Linked DNA regions of Homo sapiens. The protein of the gene in region 1 purifies or fractionates together with the protein of each later gene. This does not show direct contact. Each region holds a gene or a part of one and is shown in the gene's direction. Other genes may lie near its edges. The genes, in order: ATP8A2 and ZDHHC8.

What was found.
Region 2: the proteins of ATP8A2 (region 1) and ZDHHC8 fractionate together in Homo sapiens (co-fractionation; one large-scale study listed by BioGRID). This does not show direct contact.

What each region holds. Positions count from the first base shown.
Region 1 is NC_000013.11:26,022,186-26,025,995, forward strand, and holds the end of ATP8A2 (phospholipid-transporting ATPase IB), read left to right. Parts: 3' UTR 1-3,666; downstream 3,667-3,810. UniProt on the Homo sapiens protein: Catalytic component of a P4-ATPase flippase complex which catalyzes the hydrolysis of ATP coupled to the transport of aminophospholipids from the outer to the inner leaflet of various membranes and ensures the maintenance of asymmetric distribution of phospholipids.
Region 2 is NC_000022.11:20,141,494-20,145,155, forward strand, and holds part of ZDHHC8 (palmitoyltransferase ZDHHC8), read left to right. Parts: coding exon 1-37; intron 38-1,262; coding exon 1,263-2,263; intron 2,264-3,662. UniProt on the Homo sapiens protein: Palmitoyltransferase that catalyzes the addition of palmitate onto various protein substrates and therefore functions in several unrelated biological processes.

The sequences.
Region 1 (3,810 bases):
ACCCAGAAAGGTGATGGCCAAGATACAGAGGAGAAACGAAAACTGGAATTGAATGTGCATTAGGCATCTTAACTATTCATATTTTGTCTCATTTGGGAACTAAGCCTATTTGGAAAGAGTGGATTAGAAATTGAATTCTTTGTCAAACAGTTAGCTCTGTCTTGAACTTGAAGCCTTCCAAATCAGAATTATGTATTTAAGTGTGTGTTTGTGTTTGTTTGGGGTTTTTGTTTCTTACATTAGAGTTCATATTTTCTGGGATTTAAGGATACAGGTGTATTTTCCTATTCTCTTGAGAAGTAGACTAAACAATATTTGCAGTGATGACAGACGCACACAGAAGAAAACATTAGAAGAGATGCCTTTCTATCCTCTCATGTGGTTGAGCATTCTTACAGCCAAATGACTAAATTGGCTGTAAATTGGTTTCTAGGAGGAGCAGCTGTCACTACGTGTGATGTATAATATTTAGCCAGGGCCAACTCAGGGGCTGTGTCATTTGTCCTATCTTTAAATTGAGGTCAGAGTGTCACACACAACCCCTCCCCTGGGGCAGGGTGGACTGGACTAGGTTGCATACGCTGGCTGTCAGCTCAGCAAAAATGCCACATGGGGCTTGTCACTCCGCCAGACACTCACTGACTCACGGGCTGGCAGGTCACGCTCGGTTAGCGCTCCAGGGCCTGACTCTGGATTGAGCTAAACTGGCAGAATCCACTCAGGCCAACCCTTGGTCTACTGCTGTGTACAGACAGCCCAGTCCTGTGTTGAGTCTCTCTTCTCCTGGATGACCCTGCAAAAGGAAGAGACCAGTTGTACTGTGGGCTTAGTTCTGGGTTTCCACTGCACACTGACACGTGCCAGCAAGGGTAGCTGTGGAAAACACGTATCAGGAGAGCAGAGTAGTCTGGATGAATACTCTGTGCTGATCAGAACGGGCTCGGTCATAATTTAGGAGTGGAGCTGATGTGTCTGTCCTGCCTCAGTGCAGAATATTCCAGGCTTCTTGACCAGGGTTATGTTCACCCATCTCCCAACACACACATGCACACATGAAAACAAAAACATGGTAACTCTTTTGGTTCGGCACACCATACAAAACGTGCTTTGGGGCGAGGAGTGCTGTTTCTTTTAACACTTGTAGAGGAATATCCTGAGAAGTGAACCTGGGCTTTGGGAGAGCTCAGCTGAGAATTCTGTTGACATTTTCTTTCCCTTGACAAGGCTTCAGGTTCGTCTCACTATAGGGAGCTGGCTGTGAAAATCAGTAATAACTTGTCAAGAAGCAGTGAAAAATGCGGGGGGGTGGAAAGAGCCTAGGTAACTAATGTCTTATAATGCATATGTATGTAAATATTACAGGATTTAAGGTTGAATTTTTTAAAAAGAAAGTTATAGTCTGTAATTTCCATTTGTTATAATAATGACCTTTAATCTTGTCATTTGGAACCATAAAGCATTTTTATCAGGTACCTCTGTTCCAAGGGATTTATGTCTTAGACCATAGCTGAATTGAATGTTTGCAAAACACTGCTATAGGATAAGGTGGTCTTTAGTTTTGAACGTGTGAAAGGACTGCACACTTTTCAGCCAGGGTTTGAGTTACTGCCCAGGGTCATCGTCTCAAAGTAATTCAAGGAGTGATTTAACATCAGCATTTGAAATGTAGTCTTCATCTCCTGGGATCCATAAAAAAATGTGAACAGGGAAATGGTGGCTAAGCAGAGCCTGAAATAATAACTTGGCAAAGAAATGAGTTTATCAGGTCGAGTCAAAACATGGCATCCCCTGTTACACTCAAGAAATGTTTTCTTCATGTAAATGTTTATACGGGCATATATAATCACAATGGGAACAGTTAAAACCCCCTCCCTTCAAAAAAAGAAAATCTATATCAGTTGGGTTTGGTTTTGGTTCTTCATTGGCTCAAGGCAGTTAACTGTCTCAGTATAGCCTTCGGGGAGATTTAACCTCATTCTAGCCATTTTTCCATCCTGAAGGCCAAGAAGGACTATTAGAAGGGTTTTTGAGGGGTTTCGGAGGTGAGGGCCCAAGACCCCCATAATGACATCATTAGGCATTCTTGAAAGGTGTTAACAGACCAGCACGCTCGATGTGTTGTACCCTTCATTTATTTTTTTTTCTCAGCATCCCAAGTTGTCCATCAGTACATTCCCCTTCACCTTACCTGATCTTCATTTAATGCCCAGTCTGTAACTAATGTTCTGTTTAAAGCTCTCTTAATTTGTTGGCTATGAGTGATTTGTGAATCTGGGATGTAACCCTGAGTGAGGAGAAAAGGGCATTGAGCCAGCATAAATCTGAATGGGCAGAAGCCACAAACAAATGGGAGCAGAAAAGAAGGGCGAGCTCCCCCGCGCCGCACCCCGTGTATAATCCAGTGTTAACCTCTGAGGAACACCTCGGCTCTCCCAACTGAGGAGAGACAAAAGAGGGATTCTTTTTACACCCAGGCTGGCGCATTTTCAAGTGACAATCTCGGGCTCTAGTTGCCTTTGAGATATCCACTCTGCTCTTTCTCCCAGGCCTCAGACCAAGAAAAACATGCTCTCAAGATTAGCCCATAGGCAGTTCTTGTGACCTGGCTGAAGAAAGAAAGGAGACCTGTTTGTTTTAAAAGTCGGGCGCAAAGTGTCAGGTGGCTTTGATTTATGACAGAAAGAGGAAGAAGAAAGTTGGAGTAATAGCACTATCCAAATAACCCTGCCCAGGAAACTTGGGGGTCAAGAGAGCTTATCAAGAGCCTTTTATAGGTAAGCTCTTCCGTGTGAAAGAGAAAAGGCCGGAAAGAGGGAGAGAGCCCAGAGAGCAGGCTGCGAACTCACTTCCAATGGGATTGGAGTCTGTTGTATTCTTAAGAGATAGCCTGATATGTGGTTTATAGGTGAATCAATAAACACCAACAACAACAAAAAAAAAAAAAAAAAAAAAGGAAGAAAAGAAAAAAAGGAAACCAGCCCTGTCATGGAATTTCTCTCCTTCCCTGCACAGTAAAGACTTTTGGGTTTTCATGGATAAAATCAATGTCAGTACTGAAACTCCTACTCTCCCCTCCCGCCCCACTCTCCCCCGTTGCCCGAGATGGCCAAGTTCAGGCCTGTGCAATGCCGCTTCCCTCTGAGCCTCCCTCTCAAGGGCCACGCAGGCAGCTGCAGCAGGGCCAGCTGCAGGATGGGGCTGCCGGTCACTGAATTGTCGTTCAAATGCATCATCTTTGTGGCGTCTTTCTCATGCGAGCAAAGCCACGTGCTCTCCTGTCTGCTGTCACATCTGTGCCTGGATTGCTTAAATATTGTTTGTGATGGGGAGGTTTTAATCTGGTGATGCAGAGGGAAGCAGGGCTGTGGGGGCACGTTTAATTGGCTCCCAGCAGCGTGGGGGGTGCTTCTATGGTGTGTGGGGTTTTTTGTTGCCTCCCTCTAGAAGTGTTACCGTTTTCACGTCCTATTAATGTCCTCTGGTTGTTAAATTACAGCAGCACATTACAGTGCACTGGGTTCCCTCCTGGAGTGAATACAAACGGAGGGCATCTACTTGTATTTTTAGAAGTTTTGGGAGAATTTAGTGATTTGTGGCTTTGATCAATCCTGTTGACTGGTGTATGTCTGCGCAAACCTGTTTCAAATAAATCTTTTGTTAAAGTAAGTGATTGGACTGTTTTATTTTGGAATTTTCTTTTCCACTAATCAGCATTTACTGCCACAGGGACTGCGGCCTGTAACACAGGGGTTTGTCAGCATGTGCAGGCTCAAGGACACATACACTGCCTGGAGAGCCGAGGCCCAGGCA
Region 2 (3,662 bases), on another chromosome or scaffold:
GGGTCCCAAGGTGCCCTTCTGTGGACCAGGCGAGCAGGTAAGGAGGCCTAGCCTGCCCCCTGGCAGGCCTCGTCCCCCAGGCCCGCCTCTAGGAGCTCGCCCCACAGCCTTCACCCCGTGAAGGCCCCACCTCCAGAGCCCCATCTCTCCAGCAGAGGCCACATCCCCTGAGGCCATGCCCCTCAGGGCTCTGCCTGGGTCACCAAGGGCCTTGTGTGACTGGTAGGACCCTGTCTGTGTGCACCCAGAGCTGGGACCCACAGAGGGGAGCAGGGTGTCCTGGGAGGGGCTGGCGTGGGCCATCCAGGCTTGGCGTCTGTCCCTTGGCCAGCATTGCCCTAGGCCAGGTGGGCGGCTGCCCCCAGGAGCACTGTGTACCAGGATGCCTGGAATTCCACCATTAGTCACTCTGTAAGGCCCACGGGAAGACTTTGGAAGAATTTGAGACGTGCTTGAGAAAGCACATTTCTCTTCCCTGAGTTGCATGAGTGCTCTGTGGTCACTGGAATGGTGGGCAGTGCGGGGCGGTCTGTGCAGTGATCAGGAACACCAAACAGTCCCAGGGTGCCATCCTTCCTTCTGGGCCACCCCGAGAGGCAGGCCTGTGACTGGGCCCTGTGCACCTAGACCAGCCCCATCCCCAGGGACCTCTCCCCTCAGGACTGATGTCTTTCCTGGAGAGAGTCACTGGGTGAAGCAGTGAGTCTGAGCCTCCTTGGCCAAGGGTCTGAGTCTGCAGGCATGTAGGGGCCGTGCCTCGCAGGAGGAGGCATCCCTGTTTGGAGATGAGGGCTCTGGGTATGTCATCTTCCTGGGACTCCTGGGTCCAGTGGGGGATTGGGTCTGGTTGGCCAAGTGCATTGAGCCCACATTTGCCCTGATCCACTTCTGGCTTTGTGGTTCCTGAGGCTCTTGTCCCAAGCCCAAGCCCAAGCCCATGCCTATGTGCCCGTCACAGGGGCTAGACGAGGCTCCTCCTCCCTCTGGCTGCCCTGAGTGGTGGGCCCCTGGGGCTGCATGGCTCCAAGGGCAGAACCCCAGGTGTCTGCAGTAGCCAGCTGTGGCCTCCCTCCTGTTGCAGAGCCCCTGCCCCTCAGCCGTGGATGCTCAGGGACAGGGCCATGGGTCACTATGTGGCTCTTATGGCTCCTTGAGGCCCAGTTCCTGAGGCCACGGTGCCATGTGTGGCCCCCGTGGGTGCTGACTGGCGGCTGCAGGCGGGGTGGCAGGTGGGCAGTGGTGAGAATGCCTTCTCCCTACAGGTTCCAGGCCCTGATTCCCTGACCCTGGGGGACGACAGCATCCGTAGCCTGGACTTTGTGTCCGAGCCGAGCCTGGACCTCCCTGACTATGGGCCAGGGGGCCTGCATGCAGCCTACCCGCCATCCCCACCGCTCAGCGCCTCTGATGCCTTCTCGGGCGCTTTGCGCTCCCTGAGCCTCAAGGCCTCGAGCCGGCGGGGCGGGGATCATGTGGCCCTGCAGCCCCTGCGCTCTGAGGGGGGGCCCCCCACGCCCCACCGTAGCATTTTTGCCCCCCATGCACTGCCCAACCGCAACGGCAGCCTGTCCTATGACAGCCTGCTCAATCCTGGCTCGCCTGGTGGCCACGCCTGCCCTGCCCACCCAGCAGTTGGCGTGGCCGGATACCACTCACCCTACCTGCATCCTGGGGCAACGGGCGACCCGCCACGGCCCCTACCCCGCAGCTTCAGCCCCGTGCTGGGCCCCCGCCCCCGGGAGCCCTCGCCTGTGCGCTACGACAACCTGTCCAGGACCATCATGGCATCCATCCAGGAGCGCAAGGACAGGGAGGAGCGTGAGCGCCTGCTGCGCTCCCAGGCCGACTCACTCTTCGGCGACTCAGGCGTCTATGACGCTCCCAGCTCCTACAGCCTGCAGCAGGCCAGTGTGCTGTCCGAGGGCCCCCGAGGTCCCGCGCTGCGCTATGGCTCCAGAGACGACCTTGTGGCTGGGCCCGGCTTCGGTGGCGCCCGCAACCCTGCCCTGCAGACGTCACTGTCCTCGCTGTCCAGCTCCGTGAGCCGTGCACCGCGGACGTCGTCCTCCTCCCTGCAGGCTGATCAGGCCAGCAGCAACGCCCCGGGGCCCCGGCCCAGCAGTGGCTCACACAGGTCACCTGCACGCCAGGGCCTGCCCTCCCCGCCCGGCACTCCCCACTCACCATCCTACGCGGGCCCCAAAGCTGTCGCCTTCATCCACACGGACCTCCCAGAGCCACCGCCCTCGCTGACCGTGCAGAGGTGGGTGCCGGGAGGTGCGGGTGGGCTTCCTGGCACAGGGCAGCTGTCCAGCCGTCTCCAGGGCCCCTCTTGGCTGGGCACTCATAGGTCATCCCAGGGGCCTGAGTTTTTCTCTGGGGACGGGACAGGGAGGATGCGCCTCACCCTGCCTTGAAGGCCTTGGCTAGCCCGTGTGGCCCAGCTCTGAGGATGTCCTGGGCACGCTCTGGGGACAGGGTATGAGAATTTGTGTCCTGAGCCCGACGACTCGTTCTTCTAGAGCTGGCACAGACCCAGCATGTGGGAGGCCATGGGGCTTTCTCTTTGGGGCCAGTATCATGTGGCAGCCTGGGCCTCCTTTAGGCTGTGGCTCTGGCTTCCTGGGTCACAGTGGCCCTGTCCACCCAGGGCTCTCCCTGGGCCTGCTTGGCTGCATCTCTAGGAGGCTGGGGCTGAGGATATTACCTAGCAGCAGAATGTGCCACCCTGAGTGGCCGGGCCCTGGCCCTCCCTGTAGGACATAGTTCTAGGAAGCAGGGGCTTCCCTGCTCGTAGGTGGGGAAGCTGAGGACTGGAGAAAGCAGGCTGGCTCCAGGCACCCGGCAGGTTGGTGACTGAGAAGGCGGGGTCAGCTGGCTCACAGGCCCAGGTCCAGGTAGGAGAGCTGCACACCTGCTGGGGCCAGGACCCACGCCACAGACGCATGGTGTCCTCACGGCATCTGTCGCCCTGTCCGGGCCTGGAAACCTCAAGCACAGGCGCAGTTGTTTCCCGTCGGCAGATGCAGCCCCAGAGGGAGAGCCCAGCCCAGCCCAGCCCAGGCCACTTGGCCACAAAGGGGCTGAGGGCACAGCAGTCCAGCCCTGAGCGGGTCTCCTCTACCCCACAGGGTGGGACCTGTTCAGCTTTTGTGGAGTTGGGGAGGAGGCTGCCACTGGGAGTGATGAGTGGGGAGCCCGAGACCTAGAAGTGGGCAGCATTGCAGCCAGGCAGGGATCGCAGCCCGGGGACAAAGGGCTCTCGCCTCAAGAAGGTTTAAGTAGCAAAGATACAGCTGCTGTTGGTCAGCGCTGGTGGGCAGGAGGGCAGCCCCTCGTTTTCCTGAGAGAGAGCAGGAATGAGGCCAGGCAGAGTGGCTGGGCTCCCAGTGCAGGGCACGGCAGGGGCTCCATTCAGTGCCCACCTGGCTGCCCCATGCTCTCTGTGGCCAGTGCTGGCTAGGAGGGACCCAGGGACTCGGGAGGGTGGTGGCAGTTCTGACAACATCTGTCTGTCCTGTGACAGCACAGCTGCTCCCCAGGCAGGCTCTGCATCCCTCACCTGCTTTCCAGGTGAACCCTCCAAGCCCAGAGGGCAGGGACTGCACGGGGCCCCACAACTCGGCTGCACTAGTCCACGTCCGCGTCGTCTCTGTCTTGCT